2 separate regions of the Homo sapiens genome follow, and region 1 is linked to region 2. The links come from fine-mapping of genetic effects on gene expression. Tissue or cell type: whole blood. Region 2 holds a variant in brackets; the other region holds the start of a gene. All regions are shown on one strand. Distances are from middle to middle.

Region 1 (12,249 bases), 25 kb after region 2:
GAGAAGAGCCTGGGCAACAAAGCGAGACCGCATCTATACAAAAAAGAAAAAATAAGCTGGGCATGGTTGTGTGTGCCTATAATCCCAGCTACTTGAGAGGCTGAGGCAGGAGTTTGAGGATTGAGCCCAAGAGTTTGAGGTTGCTGTGAGCTAAAATCATGCCACCACACCTCTCAGCTTGGGCAGCAGAGTGAGACTCTATCTCAAAAAAACAAAATAAATGAATAAAGTAGACTTTATCAAAACTAAAAACTTTTAGGTTTCAAAGGTCACCATCAAGAAGATGAAATGATGGGAGAAAATATTTGCAAATCATGTATCTGATAATATACAAGAACTCATACAACTCAGTAATTTAAAAAAGTCAATTAAAAATGAACAATGGGTCTGAATAGGTATTTTTCCAAGTAAGATATACAAATGGCCAATAAGAACATAAAAAGATGCTCAAGGCCAGGCGCAGTGGCTCACGCCTGTAATCCCAGCACGTTGGGAGGCCAAGGTGGGTGGATCACCTGAGGCCAGAAGTTCGAGACCAGCCTGGCCAACATGGTGAAACCCCATCTCCACTAAAAATACAAAAAAAAAAAAAAAAAAAAATAGCCAGGCGTGATGGCAGGTGCCTGTAAGCCCAATTACTTGGGAGGCTGAGGCAGGAGAATTGCTTGAACCTGGAGGCAGGGGTTGCAGTGGGCCAAAACCACACCATTGCACTCCAGCCTAGGGAACAAGAGCAAAACTCCGTTTCAAAAAAAAAATGCTCAGCATAATTAGTCATTAGGGAAACACAAATCAAAACTATGAGATATGACTTCACACCTACTATGACAGAATCGAAGTCAGATAGTAATAAGCATTGGTGAGGATGTAAAGAAATCAGAGCCCTCATATACTGCTAGTGAGAATGCAAAACGATGCAACCACTTTGGAAAGGAATCTAGAAGTTCCTCTAACACTTAAACACAGAATTACCATATGACCCAGCAATCTGACACTGAAGTATCTATCCAAGGGCAATGAAAACATATGTGCATACAAAAAAACTTACACATAAATGTTTATAGTAGCATTATTCATAATATCTAAAATTTGGAAACAACCCAAATGTCCATCAGCTGATGAATATATAAACAAAAGGAAGCATCCATACAGTGGAATATTATTTGGCCATAAAAAAGAAAAGAACAAAATACTGATATATGTTACAACATAAATAAATAAAAGCATATAGGTTTTAGAATCAGACATATCTGGCTCTTAAAAACATGCTAAGTTAAAGAAGCCAGTAACAAAAGGCCACCTATTATATGATTCTGTTTATATAAAATATCCAGGATAGGCAAATTCATAAAGACAGAAAGTAGATTCTTAGTTGCTTAGGTCTGGGGGTAGGGGAGAAGGAAGAGAGAAGGAGAGTTATAGCTAAGGGATGCGAGGTTTCTTTTTGAGTTGATAAAAATATTCCAAACTTGGCTGTGGTAATGGTTACATGTATCTGTGAATATACAAAAAAGGAACTGAATTTTATGTGTTAAATGGGTGAATTGTATGGTATTTGAATTGTATTTCAACAAAGCTGTTTTTTTTTAAAGATAACAAATGATGATGGATACATGGGGGTTCATTTTGTTATTCTTCATGCTTTTGGTTATGCTTCAAATTCCCCATAAACTTTCATTTTTTTTTAAAGCAGAACACTCCTGTATTTTGGCCACATTTACCATTAGGCCAGGTGTGGTGGCACACACCTGTAATCCCAGCACTTTGGGAGGCCAAGGCGGATTGATCACTTGAGCTAAGGAGTTCAGGACCAGCCTGCGCAACATAGTGAGACCTCATCTTTGCCAAGCATGGCAGAAAAAATAAAAATTATTACAACTTTTTTAAATATTAAAAAAAGAACAATAGCAAATTAAATTCAGAAGGTCAGCAAAATAAATTCTGCCCTTTCTCCTGGAAGACATCCCAAGTCATCAAGAAAATGAAAAATTAGCCATAAATTGAGACACAAATAAAATGCTAATCTGTATTCCAATCTAGGAAAGATATAGGCCTTGACATTGAGATATTAAGATAAGCAGGTAGGTGTGGGAGGTCTGGTACTGACAGGTTAGGAAAGATGGTAAGGAACAATAGTAATAAAACATTTTTTGGTCATGAAACCTGGCTTTTGGGTTACAAAATAAACAAAAAGTGTTTTAAATAACAAAAAATAAAATATGTATACAATGTTTTTTTAATTCAGTTTAGTTAACTGTCTTGAATAAGGAACCGAGGTTTGCATTTTATCCCCTTTTCATTCAGTGTTGATTTCCAGTTGCTCACTGATTTGTCTTTAAGTAATTGGAAAATAAAAACCAGGTTTTTAATGACTTCGCCTTAAAGGAAAGTATCTACTAATCATTTACTAAAGCCAGTCAGGATTCTAAATGCTTTGCAAGCATTCTATTTTGATATTCATAACAAAACTACAAAGTAAATTGTAGATACTATTATTCAGGTATCCTTGAATACAGAGAAGTTAAGAAATCCGTGCCAGTGGTCTCACTAGTTAAGTGATGTGCGGTACCTAAACCCAGACTGTCTACTCCAGAACCCTAAACAAACGGCCTATGCACACGCCCCTCCATGTAGACTATAAAAGCAATAGCTCTATTCACACTAATTCTAAACACTACAAGTTCAAACTACAGGCAAGTATGTCATAAATTTGATTAAATTGTTAAAGGATGATTAGAAGACAATAATTTGAAGGTTGTAACAGGTGCAGTCCTATAAACAGGCATAACAGATTAGTTTCTAATGCCTTATTAGAATAATAAATGGGAGATAATCTCCTTATCCCCTAAACTCCAGAAATTCTCTTCTATACTCTTCACTTGACACTTTTTTGTTTTGAATACTTTTTTTTCTACAACAAGTTTACTCAGATTTAGGTTTCATTTAAGAGGTGGCTGACCTTTTTTTGCTGACCTTCTGAATTTAATTTGCTATTGTTCTTTTTTTAATATTTTAAAAAGTTTTAATAATTTTTATTTTTTCTGCCATGCTCGGCAAAGACGAGGTCTCACTATGTTGCCCAGGCTGGTCTTGAACACCTCATTGACCTAGTCCTACAATATGATCAGCTGTGAAAACAATAACCCCAAAGAATGCTGTGGAAAAAACATACAGGTTTGAAGGTCAGTTCTGGAAACAGACCTTGCAGCTGTTGTTCATTTTCAGAGCTTTGCTTTCTCCAGGTTATGCCAGTGTCACACCAAATTTAAGAAAGTAGAAATCAGGTCTTCCAGTCAAAGAAAGATGACAAATGCATGTAGTGTTCAAAAGAAGTATACTGCTTTTGAAGGCAATAATACAAGGGCTCACTGTTGGAATTTTCAACAAAAGACTCAAAGGGCAAAATAACACAAAATTTGGAGTAGGACAGCTCTGGGTGCACTTTCTGACCACGTTACACTACATGATCTTAAACAAGTCCCTTATCCTCTAGTATCTCAATTGTTCTAGGGTGGAGGAGGATAAAATGGCTCAACCCATAGCAAGTACTCAATAGATGTCAGTAATAACCCAACAGTAGAAACAGTGCTAGTAGGAGAGACAGTGGTAGTAGTGGTAGTTGAAAGAGACGGTGGTAGTGTGTTCTGTGCAAGACACAATTACGAATGCCAAACTCACCCTCTGGACCGAAATTTTAAATGGGACTCACAAAGACTGATAGTAATCACTAATGGAAATGTTATTAACCAGCAGGGATGTTTTATAATAATTTCATGTATTTTAATAATTTTCAAAAATATTTCAAAGTATTCTAAAGCGTAAGACTTACTACATCCCTCAAAAGGTGTAAAAGTTTTAAAATTACTATATATACTATTGCTGTTGGATTTTTTCCCTTCAGTGAGCATTTCTATCAAGAAGTTGTACCATAAATATAAGTGTATAGTTGTAATTTAACCACGACAATTACACACAAGGAAAAATCCCTTAAACTCTGACAAATAACTTGTAACTTATTTTCAAAATAAAGTTTTTTAAAATTCTTCTTTAAAAACTTCTGGGTTTTCTAGTTTTTTTTTTAATTCTTCCGTATATTCATGAAAAAAATCTCAGTAATTGTTTTCTTTATAAAATGCTAATAAGTTAGAAAATCTTTCTCTGAATGCTGGCCAACTTAAGACCCATAGCTTATCCTGCAGCATCTTTCAAGTTGTTTATCAATGAGGACATGTAAGATGTGTATACCTGTAAGATACGGTTTCATTTTTAAAGTAAAAGTGAGATACCCAAAAAAATACATTTCTCCAGGAAATTGAAGTCAAAGGCAGGATTTGACTGGCAGGAGGTGCTGATAAAATCAGCGCAGCTCATCTAAACTGTTGTGGTCTCCAAGTAACAAGAGGAGAAACAATAATCCTATTACTAGAAGGATTGGGGGTATTAGTACATGCATCCTACTTCAGTCGTAGGCTGGGAACTGCTTTGCCCATTTACTCACAGACCTGTTGAAGTGTCTCAGGAGGATGCTCATGCTCCAAGTGACATTCCTCAATGGAATCCTTAAAAATTCTCATCCCTTTTTTCTCAAAAGTACTCACAGAATCTCATACACTTTGTGCTCCTAGTGTTTGTTTATTTCAGTGCAAACATCTAAGAAATCAATCACCTTACAGACTCCAAACCATTATACTGCATTAGAGAATCTTGTTCACAAAATAAAACATGGAAAGGGTATTCATGTACCCGAAGTTTAACAACAGACATACCATCTTACCTGATGCCACGTCAGATGAGCTCTGCCCCACCTTTCTGCGAACCCTCGTTCGGCAAATTTTGCTTTATGAACGCCTGACAAGGTCCCAGTGATGGAGCAGAGGGAGCAAGAACGGACGGTGCAGAGAAAAGCAACCTTTAGCTTCACTATTCCCTCTCGTCCTCCAGCTGAAAGTTGTTCCACGTCCCGGGCAAAGAGAGAGCCCCACCAGGCAGCACCACCAGCTCCACAGAGTTGGAGTGATTCCCCCAAGAAGCTCCCCTGCGCCCCCCGTCACCCCCAGAGACCAGCAGAGGAAACGGCATCTATCCCTTGGAAGACACTAGGCAGGCGAGAACAAATGCAAGTCCTGCTGCTCACACCGAGGAGGAAAGGATGGAGGAGGCGGTGAATGGGATGTAGCAGAAACCCGACGGCCGCAGCGGAAGGGACACCTCCCCTCTCCAGCCTAACTCTGAGCCATCTTCGCCCTGTTGTCATAGCACTTACAACGGACGCCACTGCGCAGGTCACGCCGTGCCGCGCCGACTTCTGGGGGCTGGAGTCCAGAGAGGCTGAGGCGCAAAGGCGGGGACCGACTTCTGAGAGGGCCGCGGTTGGAATTAGATTGCTACTGGGGCGGGGCTCGAGTGAACCACGGCCTGGTCCTCATTAGCAGAGAGTGATAATTACTGCAATCCTCTGCCCTGTCCTGGCAGCAGTTCCTTAAGGAAGACCCTCCTCCTGCCTGGGCTCCGGGGGCAGGCCACGCCCCCCCGGCCGCGTGACCGCCCTCTCCCCTCGGTGCGTGTGGGTGGGGCCTAGTGGGGGCGGGGCGTCACTGGCTTGTCCATGGTGCTCTGGGATCCTGCGCTTCTGAGAGTCCCAATCGCGGTGTTTTTTTCCTGCCGGGACACTCATGAGGGCCCCGTCCATGCACCGCGCGACCGTGGCGAGGGTGGTCGCGGTAGCGAGCGCCAGCGTGTGCGCCCTGGTGGCGGGGGTGGTGCTGGCCCAGTACATATTCACCTTGGAGAAGAAGGCGAGGCGGAAGACCAAGATCATCGAGATGATGAAGCTTTTGAACAGTTTCCAGTTTTTCCTTTTTTTACTATTTGAAACAGCGCTGCTTTGAAGTTACTTGTGCCTGCGTCCTGATACACATGTGTTAAATATATTTTCCGTATATACCTTAGAGTGCATTTCCTGGTATATGGGATTGGATCTATGTCTTCTTTTGTTTTTTACTTATTTTTTTTTAATCTTTACATTCAAATTCAATGTAGCCAACCTTGAAGTTTTTCTTGTTTGCTTTTTTCAATGGATTCTAGTGTAGGCTTTAAATTTCCAGTATTTCACCATCAATCCACAAATCCACATTCCCAGTAGAAAATACCATTCTAGTTTTAGTTTTTTGGGTTTTGGGTTTTTTTTTTTTTTTTAACTGAGACTGGGTCTCCCTGACAGGGTCGCCTAGACTGGAGTGCAGTGACAGGATCACTGCTCACTGAAGCACTGAAGCCTCAGCCTCCCGGGCTCAAACGATTCTCCCACCTTAGCCTTCCTAGTAAGCTGGGACTACAGGCACAGACCACCACACCTGGCTAATTTTTGTATTTTTTGTAGAGATGGAGTTTCGCCATGTCCAGGTTGCTCTCGAACTCCTGGGTTCAAACGATCCACCCACCTCAGTCCCCCAAAGTGCTGGGATTGCTGGCGTGAGCCACCGCGTCCGGCCTCAATATTTTTAAAAATGACCTTTCAGTCAAAGCCTTGGTAATATAACCAGTTTCCAATTGTATTCTGCTATACAGAGAGAGCAGATTTTTATTAGACTTATTGAAATGACCATATTACCATAAGAAGACTCACAAATGGTTTTCTAATTATGGAGGAATCAAGTAAAGAGAAAAAAAGTTTTTATCTTTTTTTACACAAGTATACTCTATCAAATTGCTGTAAATTATAAATAGCTTAAAAGACAAGATTTTCTTAAATCTGGAAAAAACTATTTGAGTAAAGAACCAACAACATTTGAAATAATATCATAAAAACATTGTCTTCATTAGTTAAACTCACGTAATTAATTCTTGTTCTGCCTGATCTTGATTAATAGTTTCATGAACCCACTTTTTTATTACAGTTCTGGAAATTGTTATATTGTCCATTGATCTTCAAGTTGTTAGAAACCCAAATCTAAGAGTATATTTTAGGGCCAGGCACAATGGTTCATGCCGGTAATCCCAGCAATTTGGGAGGCCAAGGCGGGAGGATCATTTGAGGCCAGGAGTTGGAGAAAAGCCTGGCCAATATAGTGAAACCCCATCTCTACTAAAAATACAAAAAATTAACCCAGCGTGGTAGCGCATGCCTGTAATCCCAGCTACTCAGGAGGCTGAGGCATGAGAATCACTGGAACCAGGGAGGCAGAGGTTGCAATGAACCAGGATCGTGCCACTGCACCCCAGCCTGGGCATCAGAGCAAGATTGTCTCAAAAATAAATAAATAAAAATAAAAGAGTACTTGTTAGAATATTTTCCAGGAGTCTGTTTTTTAAAAAAGAATTCAAAACAATAATATGGATGACAAAAACTTAAAATAGCCATGGTTAAAAATCTGATGAAGTTAACAACTGAGAAGAACATTTATTTATTGCTATTATATACAGTATTTTAAGATAACCAGAATTATGACTGGTAATATAATACATTTGTACGAATTTTTTTTAAAGATGGGGTCTTGCTCTATTGCCCAGGCTAGAGTGCAGTGGCACATTCATAGCTGACTGCAATCTCAAACTCCTGGACTCAAGCAATCCTTCTGCCTCAGCCTCTCAAGTAGCTGGGACTACACGTTTGTACCACCATGCTTGGTTTTTTTTTGGTTTTTTTTGTTTTTGTTTTGTTTTGTTTTGTTTTAATAGAGACAGGGTCTTGTTTTGTTGCCCAAGCTGGACACAAATTCCTGGCTATAAGTAATCCTCTGACCTCAGCCTCCCAAAGTGTTGGGATTATAGGCATGAGCCATCATTCCCAGCATACTTGTATGGACTTATATAATTTTTCAAACATTCATATAAACAATATTCCCATAAATGCAAATAAAAGAAAAATCTAGTATCAGTTATCGTTTGACAATATTTCTTATAAAATTTACCAAATAACCCAAATCATTTAATACCTCTAAAAGATGAGAAAGATATGTTTTAATGCTTTCCAGGAGTCCAACTGGAAAATTCCAAAGTTAATTCTACATTTAAAAAACTTAAATTGGAATTTGATTTTGAGGAAGTTTTTAAAGGGCTCAAAACACTGTATCAATACAGAATCACAAGTTACTTGTGAAATAAGTCATTTATATAACCAGAGTGATAATCAAAAGGCTTAAAAAGCCATACAAATAATTACATTAAAACTATCTTAACCATTTTAAACTTCAGGTTAAAAAAAAATCAAATCTAATAAAAGCAACACAGGAAATTATGTTGATAAAATGTATAATCTTCCTTAGGCCAGGTACCAAAAAAGTAAAGAAAAACTTTCTGCAATGTGATTGTTTCTCCTTTTGGGGAGCTCATTTAGATAACCTGGAGGTCGAATCTGATGAAAAGGGTACTTGAATTTAATCAGATACAGGAAGATGTGTCCCAGGTCATGATTATAACAATTCACATGTATCAAGAAAAGCCAAGAGTACAGAATCAAGTTATATTGAAAAAGAGCATTGATTTCTAGGCCTTCAGGATAAACCTTTAGTGTCAGGCCATACCAGCAATTAGAACCAAAAAAAAAAAATTGTATAGCAACTGATGAAAAAATTGAAGGAGAGAGTTACCATCCCAGGCTTTCTAAAGAGGAGAAAACCTGAATGCAATGATATATGACCTGGAAATCAAATAGCAAGACATGGCAAATTTGAACCACTGAGATACGAAATCTGAGAAATTTCAAAAGCAAAACTCTACCTCAAGAAATGATATTACCAGACGGGTGCAATGTCCATAATCCAAGCACTTTGGGAGGCCGAGGTGGGCAGATCGTTTGAGCCCAGGAGTTCGAGACCAGCCTGGGCAACATGACAAAATCCTGTCTCTACAAAAAATACAAAAATTAGCCGGGCGTGGTTACGTGTGCCTTTAATCTCAGCTACTAAGGGGGCTGAAGTTGGAGGACTGCTTGAGCCCAGTAGGTCAAGACTGCAGTGAGCCATGATCGTGCAACTACACTCCAGCCTGCATGACAGAGTGAAACCCTATCTCAAAAAAAAAAGCAAAGAAATTATTATTTTAAATGAAGAAGACAGCATTTTTAATGTGAAACTAGGGAAATTAAATGAATCTCAGTGAAAAAAGGTGGCAGAAATAGAAACTGCCTGCAGTTTAGGGGATAGCAGTTAAAGAAATAGATTTTAGAATTCAAAATGAAAGCTTCTTACAATTTTATCAGGAGCAGATCAATACTTCAAGAAAATGTTGTTTTAAAAATGGAGGACCAGGCTCTGGTCCTGTATCAGTGCACCTCCAACATTAATGTTTAAATTTTAGAAAACCACTTATAAACTATTTATTTTTAATTCTGGCCAACCTGATCATTCATAAAAGTTTTCTCACAGGCCTATTATTCATAAATGCTCTTTGACTTGCTTAGACATTTTCTCATTTTTTTAACCCCCAAGTCTTTGTCCTACCATTTTTCATTTTTTAAAAAAGCCAATTATTTTATAGGACTAAAATTTACTATTCAAGATTATTTATCATACAAAAGTATTTTTTCCTAAATTCATTTTTGATTAATAGATATAAATATATTTATAATTTTATAAACTTTAAAAAGCCAAAAATGAACTTATATTTATTCAGTGGTTTGTTTCCATTTTTATCTTATTTGGATGTGATCCAGACATCGTATCTACTATTTAACATAATATAACTTCAGGATTTTAAATTACATAAAAATTTTATTTATAAATATTTATTCTATTTACAATTAACTAATTTATTTTTTATCAATTACATCTAGATTACTTCTTAAAACTGAAATATAAGACAAAGCTAGTCATTGTTGTGTTTATTAACAAGTTTCATATCTGTTAATATCAAGTATTTATCTAAGTAAAAACTTTAAAGTTAAATACATGGGTATCCTGTTGATAACTCAGAAGATATAGCTGTTTTAAGTATATCAACAACATTAAATTAATCTTATATATTAAGGAATTTCACAACAAGGTCATTCTGTTTTAGACTGGGTTTATAGCATCATGACCTTAAAACGTCTAGCAAAAACAAATATAAAATGATCTGACCAGGCCGGGCACGGTGGCTCACGCCTGTAATCCCAGCATTTTGGGAGGCCGAGGCGGGCGGATCACAAGGTCAGGAGATCGAGACCATCCTGGCTAACACGGTGAAACCGCCTCTCTACTAAAAACACAAAAAATTAGCCGGGCTAGGTGGCGGGCGCCTGTAGTCCCAGCTACAAGGGAGGCTGAGGCAGGAGAATGGCGTGAACCCTGGGGGGCAGAGCCTGCAGTCAGCCGAGATTGCGCCACTGCACTCCAGCCTGGGTGAAAGAGCGAGACTCCTTCTCAAAAAAAAGATCTGACCAGTAAACCTAGGCAAAAATGTATGTTGACAATTTTAAAACAAATTAATTAATGAAATATTTAGTTAAGTCACATAAACTAAAAAGGGAGGGTTATTTGCTATATATTTTATATGAGCCCTCATTTTTCTCACTTAATAAAATGTTCATGGATTTTTGGCTATGACAGACTTTATTATGTAAACACACCACATAACACATGTAGACATGCATAAACACATTTAAACATGTTTCCATAAGTAGAAATAAAGTTCTTATAGCTTTTATTTTAGATTTTTAATCATGACATAGTAAATTATATAAACTCAGATGAGAGGTGGAGCAAGATGGCAAAATAGAAGCCTGCACCAAGCATCCCCCAACAAGGACAGCAATTTAAAACTCCCTACACAGAAAAAAGCACCTTCACGAGAAGCAAAATCAGGTGAACAGTCACAGTACCTGGTTTTGTTTTTGTTTTGTTTTGTTTTTGAGACAGAGTCTCACTCTGTCACCCAGGCTGGAGTGCAGTGGCACAAGCTAGGCTCACTGCTACATTCATCTCCCAGGTTGAAGCGACTCTCCTGCCTCAGTCTCCTGAGTAGCTGGAATTACAGGCACATGCCACCACGCCCCACTAATTTTTTGTATTTTTGGTAGAGACGAGGTTTCACCATGTTGGCCAGGCTGGTCTCAAACTCCTGAACTCAAGTGATCCTCCCACCTTGGCCTCCCAAAGTGCTGAGATTACAGGCGTGAGCACCACACCCAGCCAGTACCTGGTTTTAACTTAATATTGCTGAAAGAGGCACAGAAGAAGTAGAAAAAAGTCTTGAATTGCCAACACCACTCCTCCCACACTCCCCAGCAATGGTTGCATGGTGTAAAGAGCATTTCTGTGCACTGGGGAAGGGGGAATGCAGCAAATTTAAGGCGCTGAACTCAGTGCTGCCCTGTTATAGCAGAAAGGAAAACTGGACAAAACTCAGCTGACACCTGCCCGTGGAGAAAATACTTAAAGCAGCCCTAGCCAACAGGAAATCACCAATCCCAGCAGTCAGAAGTTGAGTTCCCTCAAGTATCATGACAATGATCTAAAGTACTTTGGGGCTGTAAGTAAACTTGAAAGGCAGTCTAGGCCACAAGGACCACAACTCCTAGGTGAGTCCTAGGGCTGAAATGGGCCCAGAGCCAGTGGACTCAGGGGGCACATGGCCTACTGAGACACCAGCCAGGGCAGTTGTGGGAGTGCTGGCATCAACTCTCACCTAGTCCAGGCTGCACAGCTTGTGGCTTCAAAAGAGACTCCTTCCTTCCACTTTAGGAGAGGAGAGGGAAGGATGGGGAGGACTTTGTCTTGCACCCTGTATACTAGCTCAGTCACAGCAGGATAAGGCACTGGTCAGAGTCATGAGGCCACCCCCCATTTCAGGCCCTAGTTCCCAGATGGTGTTTCTACACACAACGTGGGCCAGTAGGGAACCTGCTGCCTTGAAGGGAAGGACCTAGTTCTGGCAGGATTCATCACCTGCTAACTGAAGAGCCCTTGGGCACTAAACAACCAGCAGTAATACACATGTACTACATTGAGGGCCTTCGGTGATACTCTGAGACTTATATGGCTTCATTATTGGCTGAGGTGAGACTCAGCACATTGCAGATGTGGTTACTATGGAGCAAGAGTCTTCATGCTTGAGAAAAGCAGAGGGAAGAGTAAAGGGACTCTGTCTTGCACCTTAGGTACCAGCTCAGCCAGAGGTGAGTAGAACCCAAAGCGGGCTCATGGGGTCCCCAATTCCAAGACTTGGCTCTTGGATGGTATTTCTGCACCTGCCCTGGGTCAAAGGAGAACCCACTGCCCTGAAGGGTGAGACCCAGGCCAGGCAAATTCACCACAAGCTGACTTAAGAGCC
Region 2 (8,000 bases):
ATGCCTCTTGAGAAGTACACATCTTTTGGAAAATAATATTTAAAACAACATAATCAGTACGGCTCACACTCACACATCTGTAACCATTTATTCAGAAACTGAAGCCCATCAGAAAGAAATCTGAGATGCCATGTGATGCTTTCTCTTTACCAGAGTATGATAAGATAGGCCAACTTCAGGTCAGCAAGACCCTGTTTTTTTCTCTATATTAAGCATACATTTGATGACACATAACCCACCAAAAAGAAGTTAGCAAAATAGCCTCTGACTATTAAGGGTTGTTAGGTATGTCCAGGAGACTGACCTTAGAAAGGCTCCTCTAGTTTGAAAATATTTGAGAAGGGAGCAGTTGAAGAAAAGGATGTCAAGTTCAGCTCACACGTTTGTCTGCTGACACTAGTGGTTTCACTTAAATTAGAAAATGTTTGTGCTTCCCCTGTGACAGTAAAAGCTAGGTAAAAGTTCAATCTGGAACTTCAAGAAACATATTCAAGAGAACAAAAACATTCCCATGCTTCTCAATTTAAGCCCAAGCCAGGAAAAATATACAAATTGTCAGCCCACATCACAAGAGGCTGAAGAAATGAAAGACAGAAGGGAAGTGAGGTGGGGCCTAAGAGAATGTAGTTTGGACAACTCCTAGTCCCCAGAGAATACAAAGCTTTTAAATGAACACAAAGAATAAAAGAGCTATAAAATCACCATTCCCATAGCAAATAACTTTCATTTTCAACACTTACTTGAAGGATATCAATATGCCATAAACAAATTGTCACCTAATATGCCAGTTTCTTTCAGTACGTTTTTCTGATAAGTACACTTTTTATCCCTTGTCTGTGCTCTAAGCCCCAGTGGAACTCCAGAGGCATCTGTCTTTTTGGCCCATAGTTCGAGCAGGACCAGGGAAGGCCTAGTGTCTAATCGAATTTCTAGCTTCTAAGATACCCTCCTCTCTGCCCTGCTTAGAGCCCCCATGGAGCTTCAGAAGGAACTAATTGCCAAAGAAGTATTCTGGGTAACTATAACTGTAGGCAAATTCTCCTCCATGGCTTGTGTAACCCACTTAGTAAAATAACAGGCTTACGGTCAAAAACAGAAGAACAACTAGATCCATGCAATAAAGTAGCCTATATCGTATGATAATACCTTCTCCATTTACTCTGGCATACTAAATAAATGCCCTGACACTAGGAGGAGCAACATGAAACCATGTCCTTTACCATAAAATCAATGAGAGCACACTTTATCAGGCCTCTGACATAAACAGAGTGGGAAATAAAATGATAGTGGTAACAGAGAAGGGGACGAAAACAGAACATGGTGAAGAGTAATAAAGAAAGCCACTGTCAATTGCCTCAGCACTACCCAGAAATTTGTTCATTCATTCATTCAACAAGTATTTACTGGATGTCTACCATATACCACGCCAGGTTACCAAGCCTGCCTTGGAAATCTAAAAGATCTTCACCCTGAAAAGAGACTGCCTAAGAATATCCAACTCAGTCAGTAAATATGCATCATTACTCAAATTGAAAGCAAAATACAAAGAAAGCCCAAATGAAGAGAATAAGTCTGAGAAATCCAAATCCTAGAAGGTAACATTTACAGCAAGCTCCAAAGGAGAGGATCTCTGGTAAAAGGAACAGCCTCACAGACACTTAGTTTTCTCATACCCATAAAAAAAATGCCCCCAACACTGACATCCATTAAAATAACTCTCAACTTGAACTAAACTTATCTAATAATTGAAATAAAAATTTTTAAGTTATATCTTACATTTAATAAAGGCCAAAATAAAATATAATAAAAACCAAACCACATACTATAATTTTAATAAAAACCAAACCGCACACTATACTTGTACCCACAGAACCATGTCAGAGAATGAAACCTGATGAAGCCTGACTGAGTGAAGACAACCAAAAACCAAGAAATTGGAACGGTAAAGAGAAAATACTTGAGGTTCACCAAAGAAAATGTACTTCAAACCACTATGACTTAGCATCTAATCAATTTTGTTATTGTAGAACATTTCTTAAGACTCAAGTGTCTTAAGTACCCAGAATTGGCCTCTATTAGTCACAGGCAATCCCGGAAACAATTCTGGAGAGGCAGGTGATTAAGAGGAATCCTCTGCTAGAAAGATACATATACACAGAAATAGTAGACCATGAAAATGTAATAGCCTAAGTATCTGAAAGAATAAATGAAAAATGGGAAAATGTTAACCAAGACAAGAAAACATTCAACTAAATGTTTTGTGTTCTCTACCAAGTCAGCACTAGGGAATATCTATTCTCATATAACATTAAGCCCAATTTGTAATATAAATTCTACATTGGTAAAAATATTTCTTACCTGAGACAGAGTAGACACAAAGTTTTCTAGAATGTAACACAGCCAAATGTAGCATTTCGGTACCTCTGAAAAACAGAGAAAGTTTTTAAAGTTTTCCAATATTAGCTTTAGACGTAACCAAAAAGTTGTAAAATAATTTCAAAAAGATCTCATAACCACAGCCACTGTGAGTAAACAAAACAATTCATTAGATAACATTCTAAACTGAAAAATAAATATAACAATAAACAGCCAATGTGACAACCCCAGAGGCTCAAGTACTCTGCCTCAAGGCACTGCCTTCAGATTGAAGCCAACAGAGCTTCCAAGAAAAAGTCAGATCTGAGGTCCTTCCCTAAGTGCTATTTCTTTCAATAAAGAAATCCAAGTTCTAGTCCTGGCTTTCTGACTAATTCATCCGTGACTTTGGGCAAGTCACTAAAATCTCCCTGAGCCTATTTCTCATGAAAAATAAGAGGTTCAATGAAATGAAATAAAATAATGTGAAACCATCTTGGAAAGGTTAAAACATCACAAAACACCAATCATTATTACAAGTAGCATATATCACTTCCATATCTGAAATTTTATTACAAGTATTGAAAATATTTCTGTTTGGACTAAATCTCAAATAGAAATAAACTACCAATATCACCACAACAATTCCCAGCCTATCTCAAGTGGTTTCCAGAAACTAGCATGGCACAGTCTAGAGATCCTAAATTCAGTTTTCAAGGATCAAGCCAGGGGTTGTTAATGAGTAAAGAGTGTAAATGGCTGTGATTAACTGGAGACTGAACCAGACTAAAGGAGGTGGCTATTACTTGGTTCTGGGCTTGGGGCCAGAGCCCCACATTTTTCAAGAAAAGCCAGAAAGCATTGGGTTTTATGTGAAATCTCTTGGTTCTTAAATGTTGACAGCTCTTTTAAATTTAAAATACTGAGCAGGCGGCCAGGTGTAATGGCTCACACCTGTAATCCAGCATTTTGGGAGGCTGAGGTGGGAGGGGGCGGTGGATCTCCTGAGATCAGAAGTTCGAGACCAGCCTGGCCAACATGGTGAAACCCTGTCTCTACTAAAAATACAAAAATTAGCCAGGCATGGTGGCACGTGCCTGTAGTCCCAGCTACTTGGGAGGCTGAGGCAGGAGAATTGCTTGAATCTGGGAGGCGGAGGTTGCAGCAAGCTGAGATCACGCCATTGCACTCCAGTCTGGGCGACGAGAGTGAAACTCCGCCTCAAAATAAAACAAAATAAAATACTGAACAGGCTCACATGTACAAGCAGGCCTCCAGTGTACAACGCCTGTTTAGAACAGACTGTTCTAAACTGCAAGGACTATAATTGAAGTCTGCAGACCTAGGTGGGGGTTCTGACTCTGCACCTTACTATATGTATGATCATTTAAACTTTCAGAGTGTTAGTATCTTATTTACAAATAAGAATCTTATTAGATAACATCTGCAAAACATTGTTACAATTAATATATACTCATCATTTGCTCTACTAGTAGAAAATGCAAATATACATGACTATCACATAATCAGTATCACCTTTGGAAATTTTGTATATGTACCCTGGACATTCAAAACAAGTTTTCCACCATGCTCAGGAAAAGAGCATGATGTCATAGAAAGGCCTAGTATACTATCTACTTAACAACGTTAACTTCCTCCCCTTCCAATGTGAGCACATAGATGAGGGCTATACTTAAGGACTACTATACAGAATGATTATTGGCTGTGTTTCACTTTTTTAATGGTAAGGTAAAAACACTTTTTAGCAGGAAGGATGCTTTTGTCTCCTTACTTTGTAAATCCATCACACCTAATATGTCCTAGGCACATGATGGG[A/C]ACCTAATCACCATCTGCTTTTAGATGGAGTAGATATTTACCAACCACTTCGGTCACAAAATCTCCGCAATCCAGCCTGTCACAAAGCATAAAAGTCTCATCTCATATCCCAGCCTAAAGCATCTAAGCTACAGCTTCCCAACAGAATAAAACATATCACTAGAAGAATGTGAATGCTCATGAGTGGTTGTTTGGTTTTCAAGCAGGAGTTAGGGCCCTGACTAAATGGCCCCTGGGGCCAATAAATTATGATAAACAAATGTAGAATGCCAAAATCCAGAGCTTAGGGTACTGCCCAGATTTAAAAAGGCAAAAGGGAGCTCAAAAAGAGGAGGCAAACTGACTCTGGCTACTTGATAAGTGTTCATCGTACTTCTAAATGATGAAGAAATACAAGCTTAATTTTAAGAAAGTTTGTGTATGAAAATAAGAGGATCAGCAATATCATCAGTAAATAAAAAGCAGACATATTACCCAAAGTTCAAACTAATAAACAGTTTTCTAAAATAAATTAGATTTAAGAATAAAGTACTTTGAAACAAAGCTCTTGTAGGGGGAAGACTTACTTTGTGGGTTGAACTGACTTCTTTCAAGAAACGATAGGGCATCTCTACCCCAAATAACTATTCATTTTAAAACCTCAAAGCTATGAACCAAAAAGTAATGGTTATCTGCTACTTCATCTAATTATAAATGGACACTTATATAACTTTAAATAAGTAGATACTTCTTATTTATTTCTTTATTTGGTTATTTTCAAAAGCTTATCTCTTTGTTTTTAAGCTTCTGATAATGTCAGGCATCTTAAGTCTATTACTATTAAAAGGCCCTAAATTATTATATCTTAAATGTACAGTTTCCACATAAAAAGCATTCCATACGTGAGAAACCCCTAGGTGACAATATCCAGAAAATATATTTAATTCATGGATAGTCTTCTTTGAAGAATACACAAAAGTGACACTGTAAAGGATTGACATACTCCAAGTAAAATACCAGAATTAGTGGGCTTACTTACGAAACAAACTTTCCTACTTCCACTTGAAGTACTGGATCTCGTAGATCCACTTCTAGAAGCAAATCTTCGGCTTGAGCTCCATCTCCTGTTTTTGCAGGATGGGGGCTAAAGATCCTTAGGTATCCCATAAAGCTACCCACAATTATTTTATCTGTAGAGAATTTAAAAAAAAAAAGATAGAGGGAGAAACAAACATTAGCAAATCTCTTAGGAAATAAGCTTTCTAATGTGTAAAAGAGAAATCTAAAAATTAAAAGAATTCAGTCTTGCTTTATACACAAAGGCCACTCTGTCAAAAAAGGTGTAATTAAAGAGTACTTATTTTAATAACACACAGCTTTCATAAATAGCTTTACATCCCTATAGTCAAATGTACTAACATATTGCATTTTTTCCTAAACCTTTATTTGGTATCAAAGTCATAATTTAACTCAATCAAAGCAAGCCCCTTTATCAAAGGACTAGTACAATGTTGTAAACTGATTCCATCATAGAGGCCAACTCTATAACTGCTTGTGGCTGTCGAAAACACTGTATTAAAAAGGATTCTGAGTCGTCACTAGATAGAGTGCCTTGATAAGCAATGTTTCATCTTAAGTACAAGCAGGGGAAATGATAGAATGGGTGTTGTAAGTTAAATTGTGTCCCCCCAAAAAAAGATACGTTAAAGTCATAACCCCAGGTACCTCTGAATGTGACCTGATTTGGAAACAGAGTCTTTGCACATGTAATCAAGTTAAAATGAGGTCCAGTTAATTAGATGTGTGATCAAACTCAATTAGTGTCCTTTAAGAGGACAGAACAGAGACATGGAGGGAATGGCATGCAAAGCTGAGTGCAGTGGCATGCCCCTGTAGTCCCAGCTACTTGGGAGGCTGAGGTGGAAGGACTGCTTGAGCCAAGGAGTTCAAGGCTGCAGTGAGCTCTAATCGTGCCACTGTACTCTAGCCTGGGCGAAAGAACAAGACCTTGTCACTGAAAAAAAAAAAAAAAAAAAAAAAGGCTGGGTGCAGTGGCTCATGCCTGTAATCCTAGCACCTTGGGAAGCCGAGGCAGGCAGATCACTTGAGATCAGGAGTTCGAGACCAGCCTGGCCAACATGTTGAAACCCTATCTCTACTAAAAATAGAAAAAATTAGCTAGGTGTGGTGGCGCATGCCCGTAATCCCAGCTACCCAGGAGGCTGAGGCAGGAGAATCGCTGGAATCCGGGAAGTGGAGGCTGCATTGAGCCGAGACAGTGCCACTGTACTCCAGCCTGGGTGACACAGCAAGACTCCATCTCAAGAAAAAAAAAATCCTCATAATAACCCTATGAGAGAGGTATAATCCTGGGAACTTCAATACTGGAGGCTTACAAGGTCTCTGGAGCCATGCCCATTCCTGTCCCCACTAAAGGCTTGTTCAGTTCAACTCTGCCTGCATTGGGAAAGCTATCTTACATTCATTCCAGCACCTTCTGTACTTAAATCTATCAGTTTCCTGTCACTTGTGGCCAAAAAAAAAGATAACTGATATAGAAATGAGCACTAGAAAATAAACTGCAGGCATGCAAACATGCAAGCATATTTGGAATTGGTTCTTCTTTTTTTTTTTCCTTTGAGACAGGGTCTCACTCTGTTGCCCAGGCTTGAGTACAGTGATGCAATCACAGCTTGTTGCAGCCTCAACCTCCCAGGCTCAATTGATCCTCCCACCTCAGCCTCCTGAGTGGCTGGGAATACAGGCATATGCCTTCATGCCCAGCTAATTTTTGTATTTTTTGTAGGGATGTGGTTTTGCCATGTTGTCTGGGCTGGTCTCAAACTTCTGGACTCAAGCAATCTACCTGCCTTGGCCTCCAAAGTATGGGAATTGGTTCTTGACCTGAAATGCGGTACAAAACAGTAAGATTCCTTGTGGGGACAAGAGTAACTTTATTTTAAATGCTAATCTGCCATGTGACTCCTGACTAAACTCAAGTCCAAGAACTCCTCTAAGATCTCTAGTTGATGTATTACTCTTTATGCAGAAACATCTATTCATTTTAAGTTTTGCCTTTCCTCCAAAACAGCACTTGATGTTGCTGCATACATCATAGGCTGTGACACTCATAGCCACCTACACATTCTTCTCAGAGCATGTATACTTTTTTTCCCCAAGATACAAGCCCTGGGTCTGGGGGTTGTGGTGTGGAGAGCTGCCTGTCTTGCAACTGCCCAGGACATTTCTGCCCATAAGTTCACCTAATAAATCACTGTATACTGACAAACTGGATTTGTCTGCCTCAATCTTTGGTTCTCAGCTCCTTCAGTATTTGAGGGCCACTTTGCGTATATGCCCTTTCACAGAACACTCCCATTCATGTTCTAGGTGGGGTTAAGTATCACTTTACATTGTAACAGAACAATTAATCAAGTTATCATCTCTAGTCATCTGGGACCCTGTGCCCATTGCAGGTGAAACTCTAGTAGACTGGACAGCTGCTGCCATAGCCAGCTGAACAAGGAGGAACACCAAACCACATGTAAGATAGCTTTATCGAAGATAGCTTTATTTAAATTAAATTGGATAATTTAAAATAAAAGAATGATAGGTTTAAATCTCAAAATTGTCATCTAAGGGTAAAGAATAAAACTCAGGGTCTTTGGTACTCTGCAGAAACATTTCTCACCACTTACTACTCAGATAGTGGGGCTTAATCACTGAGAAGCTCATTCAGAGACTGATTCTTTAAGTTTTAAATTACAATAACAAATGACCTGACAAATCTCTCCAGCCTTCTTAAGTAAAAGTAAAGGCACTGATCAGGA

Evidence for each region. PIP is the estimated chance that this variant, and not a neighbour inherited with it, causes the effect.
Region 1: BBS9 starts here. The variant in region 2 is fine-mapped to the expression of BBS9 in whole blood (TOPMed, PIP above 0.99).

The regions. Positions count from the first base shown.
Region 1 is chr7:33,122,567-33,134,815 of GRCh38, reverse strand. It overlaps BBS9 (Bardet-Biedl syndrome 9), which reads right to left and starts at 5,252. Exons shown (of 23, transcript NM_198428.3): 1 at 4,775-5,252. RefSeq lists enhancers at 5,190-5,299, 5,790-5,839 and a silencer at 5,350-5,649.
Region 2 is chr7:33,150,061-33,158,060 of GRCh38, reverse strand. It overlaps BBS9 (Bardet-Biedl syndrome 9), which reads right to left. Exons shown (of 23, transcript NM_198428.3): 3 at 5,210-5,360; 4 at 2,359-2,423. Among named protein-coding and RNA genes, the nearest start is that of BBS9, 24 kb to the right of the region's middle. The variant A/C (reference allele first, on the strand shown) is at 4,192.